7 linked regions of the Homo sapiens genome follow. The protein of the gene in region 1 interacts with the protein of each later gene in a pairwise test. Each region holds a gene or a part of one and is shown in the gene's direction. Other genes may lie near its edges. The genes, in order: FCHSD2, ZNF587, CCHCR1, HDAC4, GSN, KIFC3 and FAM9B.

What was found.
Region 2: the proteins of FCHSD2 (region 1) and ZNF587 interact in binary tests that used the Homo sapiens proteins (3 or more experiments, as listed by UniProt).
Region 3: the proteins of FCHSD2 (region 1) and CCHCR1 interact in binary tests that used the Homo sapiens proteins (3 or more experiments, as listed by UniProt).
Region 4: the proteins of FCHSD2 (region 1) and HDAC4 interact in binary tests that used the Homo sapiens proteins (3 or more experiments, as listed by UniProt).
Region 5: the proteins of FCHSD2 (region 1) and GSN interact in binary tests that used the Homo sapiens proteins (3 or more experiments, as listed by UniProt).
Region 6: the proteins of FCHSD2 (region 1) and KIFC3 interact in binary tests that used the Homo sapiens proteins (3 or more experiments, as listed by UniProt).
Region 7: the proteins of FCHSD2 (region 1) and FAM9B interact in binary tests that used the Homo sapiens proteins (3 or more experiments, as listed by UniProt).

The regions. Positions count from the first base shown.
Region 1 is NC_000011.10:72,890,819-72,894,318, reverse strand, and holds part of FCHSD2 (F-BAR and double SH3 domains protein 2), read left to right. Parts: intron 1-3,500. UniProt on the Homo sapiens protein: Adapter protein that plays a role in endocytosis via clathrin-coated pits. Contributes to the internalization of cell surface receptors, such as integrin ITGB1 and transferrin receptor.
Region 2 is NC_000019.10:57,859,859-57,862,737, forward strand, and holds part of ZNF587 (zinc finger protein 587), read left to right. Parts: coding exon 1-282; 3' UTR 283-2,879. UniProt on the Homo sapiens protein: May be involved in transcriptional regulation.
Region 3 is NC_000006.12:31,155,003-31,159,289, reverse strand, and holds the start of CCHCR1 (coiled-coil alpha-helical rod protein 1), read left to right. Parts: upstream 1-1,487; 5' UTR 1,488-1,689; coding exon 1,690-1,905; coding exon of another isoform or gene 1,906-1,932; intron 1,933-2,134; exon of another isoform or gene 2,135-2,200; coding exon 2,201-2,267; intron 2,268-2,345; coding exon 2,346-2,559; intron 2,560-4,287. UniProt on the Homo sapiens protein: May be a regulator of keratinocyte proliferation or differentiation.
Region 4 is NC_000002.12:239,048,021-239,051,520, reverse strand, and holds the end of HDAC4 (histone deacetylase 4), read left to right. Parts: 3' UTR 1-3,353; downstream 3,354-3,500. UniProt on the Homo sapiens protein: Responsible for the deacetylation of lysine residues on the N-terminal part of the core histones (H2A, H2B, H3 and H4).
Region 5 is NC_000009.12:121,313,162-121,316,661, forward strand, and holds part of GSN (gelsolin), read left to right. Parts: intron 1-772; coding exon 773-862; intron 863-3,500. UniProt on the Homo sapiens protein: Calcium-regulated, actin-modulating protein that binds to the plus (or barbed) ends of actin monomers or filaments, preventing monomer exchange (end-blocking or capping).
Region 6 is NC_000016.10:57,767,992-57,771,491, reverse strand, and holds part of KIFC3 (kinesin-like protein KIFC3), read left to right. Parts: intron 1-54; coding exon 55-294; intron 295-791; coding exon 792-965; intron 966-1,536; coding exon 1,537-1,684; intron 1,685-1,766; coding exon 1,767-1,897; intron 1,898-3,500. UniProt on the Homo sapiens protein: Minus-end microtubule-dependent motor protein. Involved in apically targeted transport. Required for zonula adherens maintenance.
Region 7 is NC_000023.11:9,031,328-9,035,324, reverse strand, and holds the start of FAM9B (protein FAM9B), read left to right. Parts: upstream 1-1,197; 5' UTR 1,198-1,473; intron 1,474-2,041; exon of another isoform or gene 2,042-2,203; coding exon of another isoform or gene 2,204-2,338; coding exon 2,339-2,366; intron 2,367-2,863; coding exon 2,864-2,984; intron 2,985-3,163; coding exon 3,164-3,195; intron 3,196-3,997. UniProt on the Homo sapiens protein: May play a role in meiosis.

The DNA.
Region 1 (3,500 bases):
TCTGCCTTGGCCTACCAGAACACTGGGATTGTAAGTGTGAGCTACTGTGCCCAGCCCCAGTATATTTCTTGTCTCTCAGTAAACTGAAAAATGTAAGTAGTACAAATTCCCTGAATGAGGGTTAACTAGAATGTTATGCCATTGGCCTAACAACCCCAACACTATCTTTTTTTGAAATGGTTTGGAATGCTAGTATTTTACTGTTAGTGATTTTCATTCATCATACATGACCATCTCTTTTTCTCTCCTTGAAATGGTTATATTTTAGTTACAGAGTTAAAAAACTGATTGTTTTCTTCTGCGAAGTCAGCTTTTCTATCGCTGCTCACTCTGCTCAGATATCTGAGCCTTCTATGCCTTTGTATTAACCTTAAAATAAAACAAAATCATATCTTGAGAGAGCATCTAAGGACAAAATAGTTAAGATGACTTAAAGACTAATATATCAAGAATATTGGAATGCTGATTTCCTTAATTTAGTTCTTCAAAGTTATTTAATAACTTTATGAATGTTGAAAAGACTTTATTGTAATATTTTATTCTAAAGGGACTAGAGTTTTTTTTTTTTTTGGAGACAGAGTCTCCCTCTGTAGCCTAGGCTGGAGTGCAGTGCCACGATCTTGGCTCACTGCAACCTCCGGCGCCACCACGCCTAGCTAATTTTTGTATCAAATACATTTTTAAAAGATAAAGGAAAAATATTGGGCTGGGCATAGTGGCTCATGCCTCTAATCCCAGCACTTTGGGAGGTCAAGGCAGGAGGATCATTTGAGGCCAGGAGTTTGAGATGGCCTAGGCAACATAGTGAGATCTCATCTCTACTAAAAATCAAAAAAATTATCTGCGTGTGATGGCATATGCTGTGGTCTCAGCTACTTGGGATGCTGAGGTGGGAGGATTGCTTGAGCTTGGGAGGTCAAGGCTGCAGTGAGCCATGATTGCACCACCGCACTCCAGCCTGGGCAATAGAGTGAGAACCTGTCTTCCAAAAAGAAAAATGTTAAAAGAATGATCTAGGCCAGGCGTGGAGGCTCATGCTTGTAATCCCAGCACTTTGGGAGGCCAAGAACAGGTGGATCACTTGAGGACAGGAGTTCGAGACCAGCCTGGCCAACATAGCAAAACCCCCATCTCTACTAAAAATACAAAAAGTTAACTGGGCATGGTGGTACATGCCCTGTAATCCCAGTTACTCCGGAGGCTGAGGAATGAGAATCTCTTGAACCCGAGAGGCAGAGGTTGCAGTGAGCTAAAATCATGCCACTGCACTCCAGTCTGGGTGACAGAGTGAAACTCTGTCTCAAAAAATTAAAAATAAAAATAAATTTGCCAGCATTTTAAAAAGAAGCAGTCATTACGGTTTCTTTGTTAGAATCGACCACTGCTAATATCACTGTCTTAAAAAAAAAATTACCAGCCACGCACGGTGGCTCACACCTGTAATCCAAGCACTTTGGGAGGCCGAGGCGGGTGGATCACGAGGTCAAGAGATCGAGACCATCCTGGCCAACATGGTGAAACCCCGTCTCTACTAAAAATACAAAAAATTAGTTGGGCATGGTGGCACATGCCTGTAGTCCCAGCTACCTGGGAGGCTGAGGCAGGAGGATCACTTGAACCCAGGAGGTGGAGGTTGCACTGAGCTGAGATCATGCCACTGCACTCCAGCCTGGCCAACAGAGTGAGACTCTGTCTCAAAAAACAAAAAACAAAACAAACAAAAACACAAAAACATAATTATCTATACTAGATCCTGATTTATATTGATCTTTGATAGTGAAGGTGGTATTGGAACATTTCTCTGTGTATTGTTTAATAGCCTGGGCTGTATTCACCTTGTATGAAATTCTCAGTTGTCAAGACCTGTGTCTCAGGAGCTTCCACATGTATTCCATGGCTTGATTTCAGAATTCATGAAAAGGATAAATTAATTTGAGTTTTAGTTTTGTGTCATTCCCTACCCAAAGGATCTCAAAGCCACATCTTCCAATCAGTGGCATTAGTTACCTGTCCTGATCATTGGACTCCCAAGTCTTAGTAGACACATAAAAAATAAGGGAAAAGCTCTATCCTGAGCACAGTGAATACTCAATAAGAAGGTATAAATTCTGTAAGGCAAATTGGGTTATGGCCCATCTGCAGCCAGCACACAATTTAAACCCCTTTACCTATTCCTAAAATGCTGCTCAGTAACAAAAATTAAATGTCTCTATCAGTTGCCTCCTTTCTCATCTAGCTACTCCCTACAAATTCATTCTCTTTGAGATCTGCCTTAATCTTTCAATATATCTTCAATCTTCATTTTGGATTCATTGTTTAGGCTATTAAGAACCTAGGAATTATCTGGATTTTCTTATGAACAGTAATAAGAAAATTTTTGTTTCAAGTAATTTTCAATTGGGTCTTTAACATTAACAGTTACCATTACTGGATGCCTAAGATATTATGTAGATCCTATACCAGAATGTTTAAAATATGACCTCATTATAACCTACCAACCCTATGGAGATAGGTGACATTTTCACTAGTTTTCAGATGTAGCTACGACTCAGATAATTAACATGCCCAAGATCATAAAGCTAGTAGTGCCATAAAATGGCATACAATGGATTCAAACTAAGTCTATCTGACTCAAAAACCTATTCTTGGACTCTTCAGAATTTATCTTTCTACTTTTACAGATCACATTCCTCTGACTTTTGTATATTTCATTTGTATCTGTGTCCAGAGTTTAACACTTTAATATTCCTGACTTTGAGAACAGATGTAAGTTTGAATGCCCAGATTCATTTGCAAAGCAAAATATAATAGTAAAGTTCATTCCCAAACTTCTGATAACCCCAAAAATGAATTAGAATGTAAAATATGAATGTAAAGATGGTTAAGTTTGAATATTGATTATTTTGCTCTATTTCAATTTATTTGTCATTGTTATAATCTAGCTGAAATGTCTGTATAGAACAAAAATTTTTAAACCCTGCCTCATCACAATTCCCCCAACAAAAATATTAATTTTTAAAATCCAGTTTATCAATTTCTACTTACTCTATCAATTTTGAGCTATGAGACCTTGCAAAAGAATTACTAGGCCAGGTGTACTGGCTCATCCCTCTAATTTGAACACTTTGGAAGACCAGGGTGGGAGGATTACTTGAGCCAAGGAGTTCAAGATGTTGAACTCCTATGTTGCCTGGGCAACATAGTGAGACCTTATCTCTAGAAGGAAAAAAAAAAATGAGCTGAGTATGGTGACACACACCTGTAGTTCCAGCTACTCAGGAGGCTGAAGTGGGAGAGTCACTTGAGCCCGGAGGTTGAGGCTGCAGTGAGCCGTGATCAGAATTTCTAAAATTCTTTTCATTCTACAATTTTGCTGCTTTCTATATTAAAAGCCTCTTTGGGTAATTTATATTTTAAAAAAAATTCCTAATTATCTCAATAAAGTTTGTTTTTCTTGGGTCTTTAAGAATTTAGAGAGAATTAAAATAGTTTTGTGTTTA
Region 2 (2,879 bases), on another chromosome or scaffold:
CAGAGGATTCACACTGGAGAAAGGCCGTATGAATGCAGTGAATGTGGGAAATCATTTCTTTCCAGCTCTGCGCTTCATGTTCATAAAAGAGTTCATTCTGGACAAAAGCCTTATAAGTGCAGTGAATGTGGAAAATCCTTTTCTGAATGTTCCAGTCTCATTAAACACAGGAGAATTCACACTGGAGAAAGGCCTTATGAATGCACCAAATGTGGAAAAACATTTCAGCGAAGCTCTACCCTCCTTCATCATCAGAGTTCACACAGGAGAAAGGCCTTATGAGTGCAGTGAATATGGGAAATCGTTTGCTGAAGCATCCCGTCTCGTTAAACACAGGAGAGTTCATACTGGAGAAAGGCCTTATGAGTGCTGTCAATGTGGAAAACATCAGAATGTCTGCTGTCCTCGGTCTTAAGCGACTTCGTGTTGAGATGGAGTCTTGTTCTGTCACCCAGGCTGGAGTGCAGTGGTGCAGTCTTGGCTCGCTGCAACTTGGGCCTCCTGGGTTCATGCAATCCTCCTACCTCAGCCTCCTGAGTAGCTGGGATTATGAGTACACACCACCACGCCCAGCTAATTTTTGTGTTTTTAGTGGAGATGGGGTTTTACCATGTTGGCCAGGCTGGTCTCAAACTCCTGACCTCAAGTGATCCACCCACCTTGACTCCCAAAGTGCTGAAATTACAGGCATGAGCCTCTGCACCTGGCCTTCATTCTTTTCGTATTGCTTAGAATATGACATGCTGAACCAGGCATGGTGGCTCATGCTTGTAAACCTGATGCTTTGGGAGGACAAGGTGGTTCATTGGAGGCCAGGAGTTAGAGATCAGCCTGGGCAACATAGCCAGACCTCCTCTCTACAAAAAGAAAAAAGAATGACATGCTTCTTGTTTTTGTCTGTTATAAATGAAACTGCTATATTTGAATGCAGTTGTTCATGTAGGTATGTTTCACTATGGTAATATGGTGGTGTGCAGTGCCTGAGTCACGTGATAGATTAAAGTACAACTCTTTTTTGAGACAGAGTCTCACTCTGTCACCCAGGCGGGAGTTAGGTGGCATGATTTCGGCTCACTGCAACCTCTGCCTCCCAAGTTCAACTGATTCTTCTGCCTCAGCCTCCCGAGTAGCAGGGATTACCGGTGTGCACCACCATGCCTGGATAACTTTTTTTTTTATTTCTATTAGCAATGGGGTTTCACCATGCTGGCCAGGCTTGTTATGAACTGACCTCAAGTGATCTGCCTGCCTCAGCTTCTCAGGTGTGACCTACTGTGCTTGGCCTAATGTACAACTTTTTAAGCAATGCCAAACTATGACTTAAGAATGAAATTATTGCTCATTTGTATATCTATCTACCATCAGTGTCCAAGAATTTCTGTTCTATCTTACCAAGAGGGAGTATGGTTAGTATTTGAAATTGTTTATTATTTTAATAAGTGGTTATAACTTTTGAGTCAGTGGTTTATGTTTTGCATTTTTTTTGTTTTGAGACAAAGTCTCGCTCTGTCTCCCAGGCTAGAGTACCGTGGCACAATCTCAGCTCATTGCAACCTCTGCTTCCTGGGCTCAAGCACTCTGCCCACCTCAGCCTCCAGAGTAGCTGGAAATACAGGTATGCACCACCACAACTGGATAACTTTTGTATTTTCTGTAGAGAGGGTTTTACCTTTTTGCCCAGTCTGATCGCGAACTCCTGGGCTCAGGCGATCCACTTGCCTAGGCTCCAAAAGTGCTTGGTCTACAGGGGTGAGGCACCCTGCCTGGCCTCACCTGTAGGCTTGTTTTTTAAAATGAATTTTATCTATTTCCCATTTCATTAATATATTTAAAAATAATGAAATAACAAAGACGTATGTTGGACTTCATTCATTCTTCAGTGATGTCACTTTGCTGCAAGGAATATTTGGTTTTCTTTTTTTTTTTTTTTTCCAGATGGAGTCTAGCTCTGTCTCCTAAGCTACAGTGAAGTGGCATGATCTCGGCCCACTGCAACCTCCACCTCCTGTGTTCAAGCGATTCTGCCTCAGCCTCCTGAGTAGCTGGGACTACAGGCATGTGCCATTATACCTGGCTAATTTTATTTATTTATTTTAGTAGAGATGGGGTTTCACCATGTTACCCAGGCTGCTCTCTACCTTCTGAGCTCAAGTGATCCACCTGCCTCGGCCTCCCAAAGTGCTGGGATTACAGGTGTCAGCCACTGTACCTGGCTGAATACTTGGTTTTCAGTACCACAAGAACTATGAGCTGGTTATCCACTTCATGTGGAATCATAAGCGTCCCAAAGTGACAATACATATAGATTGCCAGGCAGTGAAACAGTTAAGATGCCACCATAGCTTTCTTTTCAACATCTTTCTAAGATTACCTTACTATTTCTTTTGTTCCAAGTTTGTACTTCCTCACAGTTCTCACATATGGAAAGGATACACACTTTGTAGAAACAAGAACTTTATGTTATCCAAGTTCTAGGATAGCCATGAGCTCCAATTATCTCAGAGCTCTGAGTCCTCTACTCAATACCCATTGAGATTTATGTGTTCTGAGGCTTTTGTCTTCTAGCTACTTACTTCATTCTCCATGGGTAACGTCATTCATCCACATTAACTAATTTCCTCACTCCAAGCTCTTTTCTAGAGATAATCTCCAGTCCCTGTGCAGAAACTGTCATTGCACTTTCTGCTGAAATGGCAGTTTCTTCTCAGCAAGGTGAGATTATGGAATCCAGAATCTTTTTTCAGGGGTCACATGCCCATTTCCCCACTTGCATGAATGTCGACACTGCAGCCACAGTTTTGGCCGTAAATGTGAATTTGGCAAGTAACCACTGTTCCCAGGGAAATGTCCCAATCAGAAGAAGATTATCTGGGACACTG
Region 3 (4,287 bases), on another chromosome or scaffold:
CTAGGACTCAATGCAAAATTGGTTAAGCCGACTTGCAAATGAAAAATTCCAGGAAGGTCTCCGTGCAATGCAAACTCAGGAACACGTCCTATGGCACCTCACTTGAGCTGGATCCTCAGATCGCAAAATATTTGGGGAGCCTCCAATCTGCAAGGCAAGGATACTTTAGGCAGCTCCTGTGTGTGTCGGGGTGGCGGGGCGCGGGGAAGGAGGTCCTGTTATACACACGTCTACGTGCAATACGAACACATCACCTCTGTGTAATTCGGAGAAGAGTAGCTTCTTCCTGTCAAACTTGCTTATCCTAATAGAGCACTCCTGCTTGCCTGCGCCCCGATCTTCTGGCCAATCCCTCACTCATAACTGGTTGAACCTCCGAGGGCAATGAATCCACTGTCATCCCCCAAAAGAAAGTGCAAACGAGTCCTTAAGTACTCCAACAAATTGGACCTAAACCCCTACTTCCCGGCTTCTCTAGGTGGGATAAAAACAGGAAGGAGCTCCCCGCGATCATGCAAGGCATACCCGGCCTTTTCCCACTCCGCCCCAGCCCCGTTTCGGATCTACCCGCGCGGCGCAGTCTCCGAGTAGCCTCCTCTTCAAGCAGTGCCAGCCTGTGCGGCGGATCCCGGGACCCCTTGGGCTCCTCGGCAGGAGCCGACGTTGCTGCATCTGTTTGACAGCCAAGAAGCCGGGGCCAGGAGGGGCGCGGCCTCTGCGCGCGGGCAGCGCCTACCCCTCCTTCGGAATTCCCGGGCCCGAACTTCGCGCCGAGCGAGCCCGCCCCCGTGCCGTTCCCGATTGGCCAGCTCATGTGTTCTCTTCCGCGCCATTGGACAGCGCCCCAAGATCTCCCGCCTTCCACTTTTTCTGATTAGTTCACAAGTTTTCCCGGGTTGCCGCAGTGAGGAGGAGCCGCCTGGGCGCGGAGATGCTCCGACGCATTTAGTGGGCCCAAATTTAGACGCCACTGCGCCTGCGTACACCTTTCCCCCTCCTCCCAACAGAGTGAAATAGGACTTTAGGGCGCCCGCCTTGCGCAGGCGCGGTCAGGGGCAGAGGCGGGGCCGGGAGCGAGGCGTAGGGGGTGTGGCCAAAGCGCAGTAGGGGGCTCTCGCGGTTGGTAAGGGACGTTCGGGAAGAGTCGGTTGGGGGCGGGAAGGGGCTGAGCGGGGGTCCTGGGAGGGTTCAAGGGGTCCAAAGGGGAAGGGGGTACAGGGGCCAGGTGAAGGGACAGATGAAGAGATCAGAACAGCCTTAGAGCTCACGGGCTAACTGGGTGAAGCCTCGGGTATCTAGGGGAGCAGTGGTGGGAGAGTAGAGCCGGCTAGCGTACAGGGGGCGAGGGCAGGCTATTGAGAGATGGGGGTGAGGGTCAGGACCAGAATAATTCCTTCAGAAAAAGGTAGATTAGGTTGTAAAAAGGGACGGGAGTAGGGATCCCAGATTCGGGTAAAAAATAGATTAATGAGGGTGGGAGGGTGGGAGGAAGATCTTAAAGTGCCCACTATGTGTTAGGACTCGAGAAAGAGGAGGCGGGCAGCAGGCATGGAAGCTAAGGGGATAGTAGAGAGAAGCTGAGAGAACAGCCGCAGGAAAGATTTGAATAAGATGTCAGGACGCTGGCTTTTCTGCCTGGGGATCTAGGCGGCCTGGATTCCCAAGGTCTTGGGGAGGGTCTAGCCCTGCATGTGGCCACATTCAGCTGGGGCCAGGCCTTGGGCCAGCACTTTAACAGGGAAGGACCCAAGAGTCATGGCCTGCTGGTGTCTGGATGGGCTTCCCTCAGGCCTTGCTGAGCCATGGAGAGAACTCTGGAGATGGCGCTCAAGACCCCTGCACTGTGTACCTCCTTTCTCACCTCTGGCCAGGAGCAGCAGGGACCATAGAAACTTAAGGAGGAGGGTAGAGGCACTGCCCAGAATCCTGAAAGTATGAGTAAAGCCTCAGAGCCCCTCTCAGTCTGTCTCTTTCAGTAAATTCTCTCCACTTGATAGTTGCTTGGGTTCCATGAGGAACCAGGTTGAGACAAGCAAGTGAATTTGGGGTATCTCCTACTTTGGGGAAGTAGGAAAAGAGCTAAGCATCGGGTGGACCTGGCTATAATTCAAGGATTATGACTTTGTTATTGTAGGGGCTTTCTCTTTGGAAGGTGGCCTGAAAATTGAATTGGAGTGTCTTTGTTTCTCCTCTTGTCCAGGGGAACATAGATGGCTGGAGACAGAATCTAGAGCCTTCAAATAATGTGGAGATGTTTCCACCTTCAGGTCAGTGGGACCAGACAAGGGGAGTGGTGGTTGTCTCTGCCTGGGAAACTGACCATCTTTGTTTTTGTAATTCTTCAGGTTCCACTGGGCTGATTCCCCCCTCCCACTTTCAAGCTCGGCCCCTTTCAACTCTGCCAAGAATGGCTCCCACCTGGCTCTCAGACATTCCCCTGGTCCAACCCCCAGGCCATCAAGATGTCTCAGAGAGGCGGCTAGACACCCAGAGACCTCAAGTGACCATGTGGGAACGGGATGTTTCCAGTGACAGGCAGGAGCCAGGGCGGAGAGGCAGGTAGGGATCCATCCACGCCGTTTTCTCAGGCTTGCTTGCTAGTGACCCTTCCTCACTGGAATAAACTCCTTACCCTATTTCGGCCCTAGTTTCCAGAACGTACTCATTTTTATGTAAGCAATTAGTTCCTACAGTGCATAAATAATAAAGCAGTGTGCTAAGTGCTAGGGATGAGGATAACAATAGTGAATAAGACAAATCCTGACTTAAATTTGTAATTAATAAGGAATCTAAAATCCTAAGAGGGGAGATAGATTGACCACCAGCTGATGGTAAAGCATGGTATGAGGCAAGATGAAGAAGTGCAAACTAGAGGTAGAGACCCAGCACTGTGGCAGTGTGGGTTCATTCTGATGGAAGAAAGCCTTTACAGAGGACATGCTGTGGGAGCTGGCCATGCTGTCGTATTATCTGTAAACATTCTTATTCTTGTTTCATGTGTCTTTTCCCAGATGTACTGGGATATCATTCTGCCATTTTGCTCCAGAATAGGATTACATTAGAAGAAGCAGCATGATGAAGAAGGAATACTAGACTGGGTGTCAGGAGACAGAGACTCTATTTCTAGTTTGGCTACCAGCTAGAGGACATTTGGCAAGTCACTTAATTTCCCTAGCCTACAGATCGCTGCTACTAAAGAAAGAAAGAAAGAGCGAGCCAGATATGGCGGCTCACACCTATAATCCTAGCACTTTGGGAGCTGAGGCAGGAGGATCACTTGAGCCCAGGAGTTCATGACCAGCGTGGGCAACAAAGCGAGACTCCGTCTCCACAGAAAATAATTAGCTGGCTGTGGTGGCATGCATTTGTAGTCCTAGCTACTCAGGAGGCTAAGGTGGTAGGACCCCTTGAGCTCAGAAGTTGAAGACTGCAGTGACCTATGATCCAGCCACTGCATTGAGGCCTGGGTGACACAGTGATACCCTGTCTCTAAAAACGACAACAACAACAATCTCTTATAGTCCTGGGTCTCAGAGAGCTGCCTCAGGAGCCATGTTCCAAGCTGGATTAAACTTCACGTGACATTGGTAGACGATTTCTCTAAAGGCTGGCACTGTGTTATTTATGTACTGTTCTCTCAGACTCCTCATAAAGTATACCTAACACTCAATAAATGCCTTTTTTTTGAGATGGAGTCTCACTCTGTCGCCCAGGCTGGAGTGCACTGGGGAGATCTTGGCTCACTGCAAGCTCTGCCTCCCAGGTTGACGCCATTCTCCTGCCTCAGCCTCCCAAGCAGCTGGGACTACAGGCACCTGCCACCATGCCCAGCTAGTTTTTTATATTTTTAGTAGAGATGGGGTTTCACCGTGTTAACCAGGATGATCTCGATCTCCTGACCTCGTGATCCGCCCGCCTCGGCCTCCCAAAGTGCTGGGATTACAGGCATGAGCCACCGCGCCCAGCCAATAAATGCCTTTTAACTAGCACCTGGCCTCACCATATTGATACTGGAAGCTTACGACCTCTCTATGCCCATTCCTCCCTCAAACTTCTTGCCCTTAAATTAGAATTGAGAAGTCCCTGTGTGTTCTTCCAACCTTTCCACTTAAAATGTGTGGCCTAAAAATAAAAAAATAAATAAGACAAAAAAACCACCAAAAAACAAAAAGAATGTGTGGCCTAATGATATACACATTTGATGTTGAATCCTCCTGTATGTAGCTCTCTCTAGGGAGATCATGTTCCACGATCTCAGCCAGACTTTAGGTCCTGTGAGTCCAGGCA
Region 4 (3,500 bases), on another chromosome or scaffold:
TATGAATTTTACATTTTTCCTCACCATTTAGCAATTTTCTGAATGGTAATAATGTCTAAATCTTTTTCCTTTCTGAATTCTTGCTTGTACATTTTTTTTTACCTTTCAAAGGTTTTTAATTATTTTTGTTTTTATTTTTGTACGATGAGTTTTCTGCAGCGTACAGAATTGTTGCTGTCAGATTCTATTTTCAGAAAGTGAGAGGAGGGACCGTAGGTCTTTTCGGAGTGACACCAACGATTGTGTCTTTCCTGGTCTGTCCTAGGAGCTGTATAAAGAAGCCCAGGGGCTCTTTTTAACTTTCAACACTAGTAGTATTACGAGGGGTGGTGTGTTTTTCCCCTCCGTGGCAAGGGCAGGGAGGGTTGCTTAGGATGCCCGGCCACCCTGGGAGGCTTGCCAGATGCCGGGGGCAGTCAGCATTAATGAAACTCATGTTTAAACTTCTCTGACCACATCGTCAGGATAGAATTCTAACTTGAGTTTTCCAAAGACCTTTTGAGCATGTCAGCAATGCATGGGGCACACGTGGGGCTCTTTACCCACTTGGGTTTTTCCACTGCAGCCACGTGGCCAGCCCTGGATTTTGGAGCCTGTGGCTGCAAGGAACCCAGGGACCCTTGTTGCCTGGTGAACCTGCAGGGAGGGTATGATTGCCTGACCAGGACAGCCAGTCTTTACTCTTTTTCTCTTCAACAGTAACTGACAGTCACGTTTTACTGGTAACTTATTTTCCAGCACATGAAGCCACCAGTTTCATTCCAAAGTGTATATTGGGTTCAGACTTGGGGGCAGAAGTTCAGACACACCGTGCTCAGGAGGGACCCAGAGCCGAGTTTCGGAGTTTGGTAAAGTTTACAGGGTAGCTTCTGAAATTAACTCAAACTTTTGACCAAATGAGTGCAGATTCTTGGATTCACTTGGTCACTGGGCTGCTGATGGTCAGCTCTGAGACAGTGGTTTGAGAGCAGGCAGAACGGTCTTGGGACTTGTTTGACTTTCCCCTCCCTGGTGGCCACTCTTTGCTCTGAAGCCCAGATTGGCAAGAGGAGCTGGTCCATTCCCCATTCATGGCACAGAGCAGTGGCAGGGCCCAGCTAGCAGGCTCTTCTGGCCTCCTTGGCCTCATTCTCTGCATAGCCCTCTGGGGATCCTGCCACCTGCCCTCTTACCCCGCCGTGGCTTATGGGGAGGAATGCATCATCTCACTTTTTTTTTTTAAGCAGATGATGGGATAACATGGACTGCTCAGTGGCCAGGTTATCAGTGGGGGGACTTAATTCTAATCTCATTCAAATGGAGACGCCCTCTGCAAAGGCCTGGCAGGGGGAGGCACGTTTCATCTGTCAGCTCACTCCAGCTTCACAAATGTGCTGAGAGCATTACTGTGTAGCCTTTTCTTTGAAGACACACTCGGCTCTTCTCCACAGCAAGCGTCCAGGGCAGATGGCAGAGGATCTGCCTCGGCGTCTGCAGGCGGGACCACGTCAGGGAGGGTTCCTTCATGTGTTCTCCCTGTGGGTCCTTGGACCTTTAGCCTTTTTCTTCCTTTGCAAAGGCCTTGGGGGCACTGGCTGGGAGTCAGCAAGCGAGCACTTTATATCCCTTTGAGGGAAACCCTGATGACGCCACTGGGCCTCTTGGCGTCTGCCCTGCCCTCGCGGCTTCCCGCCGTGCCGCAGCGTGCCCACGTGCCCACGCCCCACCAGCAGGCGGCTGTCCCGGAGGCCGTGGCCCGCTGGGACTGGCCGCCCCTCCCCAGCGTCCCAGGGCTCTGGTTCTGGAGGGCCACTTTGTCAAGGTGTTTCAGTTTTTCTTTACTTCTTTTGAAAATCTGTTTGCAAGGGGAAGGACCATTTCGTAATGGTCTGACACAAAAGCAAGTTTGATTTTTGCAGCACTAGCAATGGACTTTGTTGTTTTTCTTTTTGATCAGAACATTCCTTCTTTACTGGTCACAGCCACGTGCTCATTCCATTCTTCTTTTTGTAGACTTTGGGCCCACGTGTTTTATGGGCATTGATACATATATAAATATATAGATATAAATATATATGAATATATTTTTTTAAGTTTCCTACACCTGGAGGTTGCATGGACTGTACGACCGGCATGACTTTATATTGTATACAGATTTTGCACGCCAAACTCGGCAGCTTTGGGGAAGAAGAAAAATGCCTTTCTGTTCCCCTCTCATGACATTTGCAGATACAAAAGATGGAAATTTTTCTGTAAAACAAAACCTTGAAGGAGAGGAGGGCGGGGAAGTTTGCGTCTTATTGAACTTATTCTTAAGAAATTGTACTTTTTATTGTAAGAAAAATAAAAAGGACTACTTAAACATTTGTCATATTAAGAAAAAAAGTTTATCTAGCACTTGTGACATACCAATAATAGAGTTTATTGTATTTATGTGGAAACAGTGTTTTAGGGAAACTACTCAGAATTCACAGTGAACTGCCTGTCTCTCTCGAGTTGATTTGGAGGAATTTTGTTTTGTTTTGTTTTGTTTGTTTCCTTTTATCTCCTTCCACGGGCCAGGCGAGCGCCGCCCGCCCTCACTGGCCTTGTGACGGTTTATTCTGATTGAGAACTGGGCGGACTCGAAAGAGTCCCCTTTTCCGCACAGCTGTGTTGACTTTTTAATTACTTTTAGGTGATGTATGGCTAAGATTTCACTTTAAGCAGTCGTGAACTGTGCGAGCACTGTGGTTTACAATTATACTTTGCATCGAAAGGAAACCATTTCTTCATTGTAACGAAGCTGAGCGTGTTCTTAGCTCGGCCTCACTTTGTCTCTGGCATTGATTAAAAGTCTGCTATTGAAAGAAAAAGAAAGCGAACAGTTTTTGTTTGTTTTTTTTGCCGTGTGTGCTCCATAGTGGAGGCGCTATTTTCCAATTGATGAGAATGACAAACATATATAATCTATCTATCTATCTATCTATCTATCTATCTATACAGGGGGCTTGAACCTTACTCACCCAAGAGCTTCTTACGGAATGTGGTAGAAAACCAAGTTGTAACGACACTGTAACCTACCTGATGCCTGTTCGCGCCCGCCGTGAGCTGCGCACTGGCCGTGGCCACCATTCACCTCTGTAATTTAATCCGTTTCTCTTGGATTGTCTGGACGTGCCCGATGGTTCTTTCTTTTGCTCAGTGGAGTTGGAGGTTTTGTGTTTGGTTTTCTCATTCTTGTCTTGTTTTGTGTGGGTGGATTTTCACCGACCAATGATATCCTCTTCTGACGGTCACCTTCTTTCCACTTCACTGGAGTCCAGTATTCTGTACCACATCACGCAACGTGTTATCTTGTGGTGTAAATAAAGACTGCGTTACTTGCCCTCCCAGCTCTGGTTTCTGCCCGTGCGCTCTCTTCCTCATTGGCTCTCGCATGTCTGGGACCCTGTGGGCCGAATGGCCAGTGCCCTGGGTCCCATCCGGATGGCTGCATGGGAATCACTGGACCCCATGGGGACGGCCCCTAGACCCAGACC
Region 5 (3,500 bases), on another chromosome or scaffold:
AGACCACTGAGCCCCAATCCCCTCTTTTCTCTTCTGACTATTTCTGGTAGTTTTTGGCCCATTTAGTCACATGGTGGGATTGCCAGCCATTGTGCGTTGAGGACGTATCAATAGAGGCAAGATTCACTAGGAAAAGGAGAAGACCATGAGCTCTGCTCCATGTCACTTGGTTCCTGCTTCTCTGGGGGCATCCAATTCCAGCTTTTGGAGAGAGCAGAATGGTGATTATTATTATGGGAAGGGACCTGGACACCAACCATGGCTTGGGAGGGACAGTGGGAGTGAAAATAGGCTCTGAAGCCACAGGGATGGAGGTTCAGATTCTGGCTTAGCCACCTAATAGCTGTGTGAGTAGGTGACTTCATCTTTCTGGACCTCAGATTCCTCTTCTGTAAAATGAGAGTGATAATCTGTGCCTCCTGGCCTGGCTGCGAGGATGCAGTGACATCTTTTAAAGGTAGGCGGTAGAAGGTGTTCAGTAGCTATAGTTATCACAATTAGCCGGTAGGCGAAATATCTGAAGCGCTGTCTGGAGGCAGAGGAGCAGGAGTGTTCTCCTGGAGTTTCTGAGTCAGGGAGACAAGGTGGAAGGGACCTCTGATGGACAGATCTGGACATGTGAGCAGATGCAGGATGTGTCTGGAGGAGGTCAGACTCCATGGGGAGGGTCACAGTGGATGTCCTTGTGATCCTTGCCTGCCTGGGAGCTATCTCAGGAGCCTGGCCCCTCCCTCACAGCCACCCTTCCTCTCCATCTCTCTATCTCCTACAGGTGCTGGGCCCCAAGCCGGCTCTGCCTGCAGGTACCGAGGACACCGCCAAGGAGGATGCGGCCAACCGCAAGCTGGCCAAGCTCTACAAGGTGAGCACCAGATGCACTGTCTGCCTGGGCATGGGGTCAGGACAGGGAGGTGGAAGACTTGGTCTTCCCCACTCCACTGCTATGGGACCTTGAGCAAAGCACCCCTTTGGAGGGGGGCCTCAGCTTTCTCACGTCTCCAGTGGATGCTCGTGTACTTCCTTTGCTTTCCTGCACTAAGAGCATGCGATCAACTCCGTACATATCTGTGTCACGCTCATACATGAGGTCTCTCTGAGTCTCAGTGTCCTAGTCTGTAAAGTGGGAAGAAGAGCAGAATGGTCGACTTTGTAGGATTTCTGGGAGTCCACAGATAAAATGGATGTGAAAACAGCTTAGAAAATACTTGGGGAAATACTACAGAAATGGTGTGTATGTGGGGAGGTTGGGGGTGTGGGTTATAGTTAATGACTTTATTTATGATTTCTTTCTTGTGATTTTCACAACTGAATTCAGGCTTAGCTTCAGCTAGGGAACTCTCTTGGCTGAGCTCTGGGAGAAAGCTCAATCACACTTACGTTGTGCCCCAAGTATTTTCAGTAAAACAACAAAAAGGGGATGTCGATTTTCACCACTGCCAAAGAAAAACTACTACATTATCGATTTTTTTTCTGATTATGAAGTAATACATGTTTATTGTAAGAAAAAAAAGTATTCAAAATATAAAAAGAAAATAAAAGTCCATGCAATTTCACTGGTTTAAAAAACCAGTATTACTTTTAAAATATGTTTTAATTACAAAAATGACAATACCCAGTTAAAAAATCAGCCTCTCCTCCTCATGAGAGAACACATCTTTGTCCAGCCACAGCTTTCTGTGCCTAGTTACTTTTCCATTTCCATCTTATTATTTTATTTTGAGATAGGGTCTTGCTCTGTCACCCAGGCTGCAGTACAATGGCACAATCACAGCTCACTGCAACCTCTGCCTACCGGGCTCAAGCGATCTCTTGCCTCAGCCTCCTAAGTGGCTGGGACTACAGATGTACGCCACCACGCCCAGCTAACTTTTGTATTTTTTGTAGAGACGAGGTTTTGCCATGTTGCCCAGGCTGGTCTCAAACTCCTGGGCTCATGTGATCTGCCCACCTCAGCCTCCCAAAGTGCTGGGATTACAGACCTGAGCCAACGCTCCCGGCCATTTCTATTTTGTGTAACTGGATCCAAACTATTCATGCTGTTGTGTGGTCTTTTTTCCACTCAACATGGTCGGGAATATCTTTCTATAATAAATCTCAACACGACCCTTTATAACAGCTGTATAGTATTTTATTTTATGAATGTAAGAATTTAAGCAAATCCTGATTGATGGACATTAGGATGTTCCACCTTTTCCAGTTGCAGACAGTCCCTCTTGGTGCACTTGTGCTAAGTACAGCATAGCACTAGGGCAAGTTCCTAGACAAGGAACTGCTGGTCACAGGCCGAAGAATGAGTCAGTAGTTGAAAATACTGGTTCTGGGCCAGGCATGGTGGCTCACCCCTGTAATCCCAGCACTTTGAGAGGCCGAGGTAGGCGGATCACCTGAGGTCAGGAGTTCGAGACCAGCCTGGCTAACATGGTGAAACACTGTCTCTACTAAAAATACAAAATATTAGCCAGGCGTGGTGGCGGGTGCCTCTAATCCTAGCTCTCCTCCTAAGGGAGGAGAATCACTTGAACCCGGGAGGCGGAGGTTGCAGTGAGCTGAGATAGTGCCATTGCACTCCAGCCTGGGCGACAACAGTGAGACTCCGTCTCAAAAATAATAATAATAAATAAAATAAAAAAAGAAAATACTGGTTTTGGAGTCAGGAGTCAGACTACCTGTGTTTGAATTCCAGGTCAGCTATTTCTAGCTGTGCAAGTTCCTTAACCACTCTGTGCCTTGGTTTCCTTGTGAATGAGACAGGGATAGTAACAGAACTATCATATGCAAGGATTAAAGGGGTTCTATAATTATACAAGTTATAGAAATTGCTTAGAACAGTGACTGGCACAGAGTAGTAAGTACTCAATTCATGTAGAATAATTATTATTTAAAGGACTGCTACCTCACAGTCAACTGTACTCTGGAACAGCTCCCAAATTACTGTCATCAGGGATCTTAAATGCCTGTTTACCCAGAGCCTTGCCAACTGGATATTGTTAAACTTTTGAATTTTGACTCTTAAGATAGAACTTTTTTTTGAGCTTGGTTGAACTTTTTATTTTAGAATAATTTTTAAGTTTACAGAAAAATTGTAAAGATAGTACAAAGAGTTCCTATATACCATTCACTCAGCTTCTCCTTAGCATCTTAGCATAACCAGGTACATTTGTCAAAACTAAGAAATTAACATTGCTTCAGTACCATTAACTAAACTATAGACTTTAGCCAGATTTCCCCAGTTTTTTATTCTAGGTTCCAATCCAGGATACCAGATTGCATTTAGCTCTTTTTACTTTTCTTTTTCTTTTCTTCTCTTTTATTTACTTATTTATTTTTGAGACAGAGTCTGGCTCTGTTACCCAGGCTGGAGTGTAGTGACGCAATCATAGCTCACTATAGCCCCGACATCCTGGGCTCAAGTGATCCTCCCACTTCAGCCTCCCAAGTAGCTGGGGCCACAAGCAAGCGCCACCACACCTTGCTACTTTTTGTATTTTTTGTAGAGATGG
Region 6 (3,500 bases), on another chromosome or scaffold:
TCCTCACAGTGAGCCTGTCCCTTGCACTCATCCAGTGCCTCCCAATGGCTGCAGGAGAGCGCCCAGCTCCGTGACAAGCTGTCCCAGCTGCAGCTGGAGATGGCGGAAAGCAAAGGCATGCTGTCAGAGCTGAACCTAGAGGTGCAGCAGAAGACCGACCGGCTGGCTGAGGTGGAGCTGCGACTCAAGGACTGCCTGGCTGAGAAGGCACAGGAGGAGGAGCGGCTTAGTCGGCGCCTGCGTGACAGCCACGAGACCATTGCCAGCCTGCGGGCCCAGTCCCCACCTGTCAAGGTGAGCCCTGGCCCACCTGATCTGTGCCTCAGCCCAAGGCCCCTGGCACCTGGGGCAGGGCTAGCCCATAAGGGGGGCTTGTCCTGGTGAATAGGTAGGTGTGTGTGGGTGGAAGAATCATTCCAGTTCTGTGCTTGGTCCTGCCCCTTCCCCTTCCTGTATCCAGGGCCAGGCACCGAGTAGGTATCCAACAGCTGAGGTGCCAGGCACAGATGCAGCGCAGCCCCTGGATTCTGCCCTCGTCTTTTTGCCTTTCTTGTCTGTACCCAGGATGGGGCCCCAGCCAGGCTCATAGTAGCCTCTTGTTAAGCTGAGAAGGTTCCAGGAGACCCCCCCAGCTTTCTGGAAAGCCAGGACCTCAAGGCTCCTCTAGTTTTTTTCTGGTTTCTGAGTGGGATGTTCCCGAGAGTTCCTTCCCCTGGCCTGCTGCGTCTCAGGCTCTTGGGTGAGGTACGGTGCCCGCTGGCTCCACGTGCCATTCCTCCCTCACCCTGCAGTATGTCATCAAGACAGTGGAGGTGGAGTCGTCCAAGACCAAGCAGGCCCTCAGCGAGTCCCAGGCCCGGAACCAGCACCTGCAGGAGCAGGTGGCTATGCAGAGGCAGGTGCTGAAGGAGATGGAACAGCAGCTGCAGAGCTCACACCAGCTGACCGCGCGGCTCCGGGCGCAGGTACCCAGGCTGTGTGGGGGCACATGCCCAGCCAGGAAGCCAGAGGCAGGCCCTTGGGCCAATGCATCGGTTAAACATTTGGGTACCCCACAGACACGGGGTCCAGTCCCTCCTCTCCCCGATGGCCACGGGACCCAGGGCAAGTTTTGTCTGGTTTCCTTTTCCTCATCTATTATAACACGATCTGGTCCCAGAACCCACCTCACAGTGGGGACTCAGGAACGTCATCCCAAGAAGCTTTGTGCCCACGGCCCAGCACACAGGCTGTGCTCAGTAAGCTCTACATGGCACTTGTCACTGTCATCACAGAGGCCCTCTCCTACCTTCCTGAGGGCACGTGGCTTGGGCACCTGATGTGTGCTCAGCACTGGGTTGGTGTTGGAGCCAATGCCCAGAGCTCACAGCCCTGTAGGGGGAGGGAGACAAGGCCATTCTGCCCCTCTGGGTGTGCACATGTGTGTGTGCATGTGTGTTCATGTGCATGGGAGGTGACCAGTTTCTTTCTCGGTGTGGCACCTGCCCCTCTCTCTCCCGCACCTCGAGGTACTGAGCCTTTTCCTGGTCTGGCCAGATTGCCATGTACGAGTCAGAGCTGGAGCGGGCCCATGGGCAGATGCTGGAGGAGATGCAGTCCCTGGAAGAGGACAAGAACCGGGCCATTGAGGAGGCCTTTGCCAGAGCCCAGGTGGAGATGAAGGCTGTGCACGAGAATCTAGCAGGTGAGCTGACCAGCTGGGCCCTGTCTGCCCCACGCCGCGGCCCCTCATCCCCTCCCGCCTCACAGCCCGAGTGTCCCCATAGGCGTCCGGACCAACTTGCTGACCTTGCAGCCGGCACTGCGGACCCTCACCAACGACTACAATGGGCTCAAGCGGCAGGTGCGCGGCTTCCCACTGCTGCTGCAGGAGGCCCTCAGGAGTGTCAAGGCCGAGGTGAGCGAGGGCAGTGGGTGGGAGGGTCCAGGCTAAGGGGGTGCACTGGGAGAGGCACGACATCCACTCAGGGCGTCCCTCCAAAGCTCAGACAAAGCCGCTCAGACAGCAGCCCCTGCCCCACCCCCCATGACACTTACTGCTGCCCTTATAGGCCCTGTTTGAAACTAGACTGCTCAGGGCAGGCATTCGGCTATTTGTCTTACTATGATTCTTTAAACCAAACATGTTACAGATAACTTCATATTTCAAACATGCAGGCCAGGCGCGGTGGCTCACACCTGTAATTCCAACACTTTGGGAGGCCGAGGCAGGCGGATCACTTGAGGTCAGGAGTTTGAGACCAGCCTGGCCAACAAGGCGAAACTTCGTCTCTACTAAAATTACAAAAATTAGCTGGGCATGGGTGGCAGGTGCCTGTTAATTCCAGCTACTCGGGAGGCTGAGGCAGGAGAATCACTTGAACCCAGAAGGCGGAGGTTGCGGTGAACCAAGATCATGCCACTGCACTTCAGCCTGTGTGACAGCGAGACTTTATCTCAAAAACAAACAAAAAACATGCTACATACGTATTTTTTAAAAAAATTATTTATTAGAGACAGGGTTCATTATGTTGCCGAGGCTGGTCTTGAACTCCTGGCTTCAAGCAGTCCTCCTGCCTTGGCCTCCCGCAGTGCTGAGATTATTGGTGTGAGCCACCATGACTGGCCGATACAGTCTTACCTCTGTTAGGTTTAACTTAATTCTTTCAAGCTGTACTTGTACATATGAGAATAACCAGTGCCTCTTAAGTGCCTCCTACATGTCGAGCTGTTTATAGCCGTTAGCTCCTTGAATTTGTATGATAGCTTTGCAAAGACTAATATATTTTGGGAACAGAATATAGTTCTTCTCCTTTAAAAGACTATATCAGTAATACATGGACGTGGTGAAAAGTCAAACTCCATAGCAGGGCATCAGGTGAATAGGAAAGGCCTCTCTGCCACCCACCCAACTCTTCCAATGTGGCCTCTCAGCATTTCCCCCGACTGTTCTGAGCATGCTTAAGCCAATTGTGCGTGTGTGTGTGTGTGTGTGTGTGTGTGAGAATATATGGTAGGCCCTTCCCCCATCCACAGGTTCTGCATTCCCAGATTCAAACAACCACAGATCAAAAATAGTTGAAAAAAATTAACAGTACAACAATTAGAAATAATAGAAATAAAAAATAACATATAACAACTATTTACACAGCATTTTTTTGTTTTTGAGACAGTGTTTCACTCTTGTTGCCCAGGCTGGAGTGCAATGGCGGGATCTCAGCTTACTGCAACCCCCACCTCCCGGGTTCAAGCGACCCTCCTGCCTCAGCCTCCTGGATAGCTGGGATTACAGGCGTGTGCCACCATGCCGGGCTAGTTTTGTTTGTTTGTTTGTTTGTTTTGTATTTTTAATAGAGGCTGGGCTTCACCATGTTGGCCAGGCTGGTTTTGAACTCCTGACCTCAGGTGATCCGCCCACCTCCGCCTCCCAAAGTGCTGGCATTACCGGCATGAGCCACTGCACCCAGCCCCTACCCAGCATTTTCATTGTATTAGATATTATAAGTAACCTGGAGATGATT
Region 7 (3,997 bases), on another chromosome or scaffold:
TCCTTTAGAATGCGAGTTTATCTCATTCATATTTCTTGCTCAACAGATTCACTTGGCCTTAATTCTGTTCTTTTATGTTATGTTATGGTCTCTGTAGTATTTTCTTTATTTTCCAACTTTTACTACAGGATTTGTATGCTTTGTGTGTGCTCTTTTTGGTTATATAGGCATTTAAGGCTGTGGATTAGTTTTCCTGATGACTGCCTTTATAATTTCAATAGTATAATGAAACTCTGTATCTTGATTTACAAACTTTAGGCAATATTTATTCACTCCCAACTCCGAAACAACTCTCTCCCTATTACAGGGGATCGGAGGTGGGAAAAAGCTGAGTTAACGATAAGTATTAAGGCATTAATTTGTGGGTGAAGGTTGTGGCATATGTCTGGATAAGTCTGGAGTATGAAGGTTTGTGGGCAAGTCTGGGGCATGAGGATGAGAAAGAAAAGTAGTGAGGAAACAAAAAAGGTTATGGGCTGGGCACGGTGGCTCACGCCTGTAATCCCAGCACTTTGGGAGGCCAAGGCATGCGGATCAACTGAGGTCAGGAGTTCGAGACCAGCCTGGACAACATGGTGAAACCCTGTCTCTACCGAATATGCAATAATAATAATAACAACAACAACAACAACAACAACAACAACAACAACAACAACAGGGCGTGGTGTTGGGCTCCTGTAATCCCAGCTCCTCGGGAGGCTGAGGCAGGAGAATCGCTGGAACCTGGGAAGGGGAGATTGCAGTGAGCTGAGATCTTGCCACTGCACTCCAGCCTGGGCAATAGAGTGAGACTCAGTCTCAAAAACCAACAAACACAAACGATAAAAGCACAATCCATTGATTAAAAAGGACGCAGCTGGGCATGTTGGAAGCACACAGGGCATGGGAGGGAGCCTGGGCTCCACCCACAGGGTGATGGCCATTCTAGCCAAAGGGGCAGGGGTGGCTGGAACAAGCCCCAGGGCGAGGTTCTAGGCCCTGTCCACTTGGCCTCCATCCCAAGTCCTTGTGTCTCTCCCCAGGAGGAGAAGCTGAAAGATTGTGGGGACAGAGGCCCCAAAGGGCCACCCCCACCCCAGTCCACAGCAACCACGGGCTGTCACTTAGGGGAAGGGTGAGGGCGTGCCAGCAGGGGGCCTGGCCCCACACAGCCCGTCACACGCATGTGCACTGAGCCGACCAATCAGCGAGGAGCGCAGGAAGTCCTGCCTGCAGCTCTCACGAGAACTGAGGACCCGTTTTCTTTACTTTTCTTTTTTTTTGTTTTTTTGTTTTGTTTTTTTTGGGACGGAGTCTGGCTCTTGCTGCCTAGGCTGCAGTGCAGTGGTGTGATCTGGGCTCACTGCAACCTCCGCCTCCTGGGTTCAAGCAATTCTCCTGCCTCAGCTTCCTGAGAGGACCCGTTTTCTAAGAGGTCCTAGTGGTGCCGCTGCCTGCAGGTTCTTTGAGGGCGCCACATCAGGGGTCCCTCAGGTGAAGCACTCGTGGTGGGGAGGCGGGAACGCAGGCACGAGGCCCTCTGGGAACCAGGGTGTGAAGCGCTGGGCAGCCCGCCGACCTGTGAGGAAATGGCCCCAGCGTCGTCGCCTGGGGCCTGGGTCAGGGCGAGGCCCTGAGGGTGGGCTAGGGTGGGCTGGGGTGGGCCAGGGCAGGGAGGGAGCTGGAGCTGCCTGGGTGATCCCTAGGGCCCGGGAGGGTCCTGGGGGCTTGTGCATGTGTTGGGGGGAGGGGCCGAGGGGGGGAGAAGTGGGAGTGAGGCGGGGGTGTTGTGGGGGACAGTCTGAGTGGGGCCCTCCTGCCTGGCCGCCCGACAGGACAGGACACTTGGGGTCACCGGGGGTCACCGGGGGTCCCCTGTGCGTCCAGGGGGGCGAGTGGCAGTGCAGCCCCTGACATTCCCCTAGAGGTGGCTGGGGAGATCCTGTGTCACCCAGCGGCCCTCCCAGCCACATGGGGTCGCTAGGTGACTCAGAGGTAGGGCTGAGTTCTGTCCCAAAAGGGCGGCGAGGATCCCGCAGAGGCCGTGGAGTTCAGGTGTGAGGGGCAGCTGTGAGCTTTGCAGCCAGCCCCGGGGACGGGCTGGACGGGCCAGGACAGGAGGGGACACTGGCATCTTTTCCGTCCCTTCCTGCTCCCACATGAGACCCAGGGCGGGCCAGCCCCACCCTTCTTGAACCTGTGATCCCAATGGCTTTCCTTTCCGATGCCAGGTTTCCTTAGCTTCCTTAGTGTGTCTTTGCGCTCACCAGGTTCGGGGATCGCCTCTAGCTTCCCAGGACAACCAGCCACGGATCCTGTGGGCAGGAGGGCTGCCAAGGCCCAGTTGGAGGCTCAATTTATGGCGGCCTGGGGGAAGAAGCATGCAGGTAAATACAGCCCAAGGGGACCCAGAAGAAGGTGCACGCCCAAGAGGACGGTCTGTCTGCTTTCTGCGCTGGGGGCACAGGGGCAGCCCGAGGCCCCAGGCCCCTTCGTGGCTCTGGAGTCCATTGTGCACGTGCTAAGATGCGCCAGGTTTTCAAAGCAGGCTCAAGGGCCTTAGGCTTCCCCGTGGAAGGCTCCCCCTCATAGCAGGGTTACAGATGCTCTCAGAGCAGCTCTTCTCCATGGGTGCAGTCCTGACATCCAAGGGGTCTGAACTGTAGTACGTTGTTTACTGGAACCTGAACCCGAAGGGCTTCCAAAAGTCCCTCGATAAAATGGTCAGGAACCGGTGATTCCATGTATAGCTCTGCTTTAAAGCTTTAATTGGCAGAGAGCCCCCCCCCCCCAAAAAAGTCTACAACTAGTACATTTCTCCACAAAAAATGTCCACAGCAGCATCTTCCTCTAAAAAAGGTTTGTCTTTTACATTTTAATGCAGGAAAGGATCCAGTCCGTGATGAATGTGAGGAAAGAAACCGTTTTACAGAAACAAGGGAGGAAGATGTAACTGATGAGCATGGGGAAAGAGAACCTTTTGCTGAAACAGATGAACACACGGGGTAAAGTGTTTAAGTCACTTTTGCCTGTCGGATAGGGTCTTTTAGGAAAAGTCAGCTTTGGACCATGTCATCACTGTTCTATTCTATGCAGAACATTTCACATAAGACATTTCTTTTCCCAACAAACATGGCATTTTGTGTAGTATTTTGTTAAAATTTTGATGTAACTTTTTTTACAGGGCTAATACCAAGAAGCCAGAAGATACTGCAGGTATGTTTTAGGAGTTATCTGTAGTTTATGAAAATTGTTTTCAGTCATACAACTGTTGCAGTAGGTTATATGAATTAGTGGACGACAAGACTGTCTTAAATGGCTTCTCATATGTAGCATTTAACGTACGTATTTAATGTAATCTATTTGATAAATTTTTCTTACCTTTTTGATTGTTGATGTGGAATGTGAGAATGCTTCTAATAATGGTGAAGCGAGATGGATGGCTTTTCTTTCATACATGTGGAAATTTAATTGTTTGGAGGATATTAGAGGACAGTGGAGGAGAAACAGCTCTATTCGTTCCTTTTAGTATACACAGATTAAGTCATATATCAATGGTTTTTTTTAGCTTTTACTTTAAGTTTGGGGGTACATGTGGAGGTTTGTTATGTAGATAAATTGCATGTCACAGGGTTTTGGTATACAGATTATTTTGTCACCCAGTTTATAAGCATAGTACCTGATGGGTGGTCTTTGATCCTCACCCTCCTCCTACCCTCCACCCTCAAGTAGGCCCAGTTGTCTGTTGTTCCTCTCTTCCTGTCCGTCTGTACTCAGAGTTTTTAATATGAGTTTTTCATGTTCCTAATTTAGCTGTTCTATTGTCACAGCTTTCTGATTTTGTTTTCTTTAAAGTACAAGAGAAAATTGAATTTTCTAAAATCATTTTCTATTATTATTCCAGTAATAAACTGTGTAGTAGAAAAGTAAGGACAACTTTTCTACCTAGTGAGAAACATGTAATTGGCTCCAAAAACTCATAAACTTTATATTGCTGTGTGAAATATTAGTTACACTC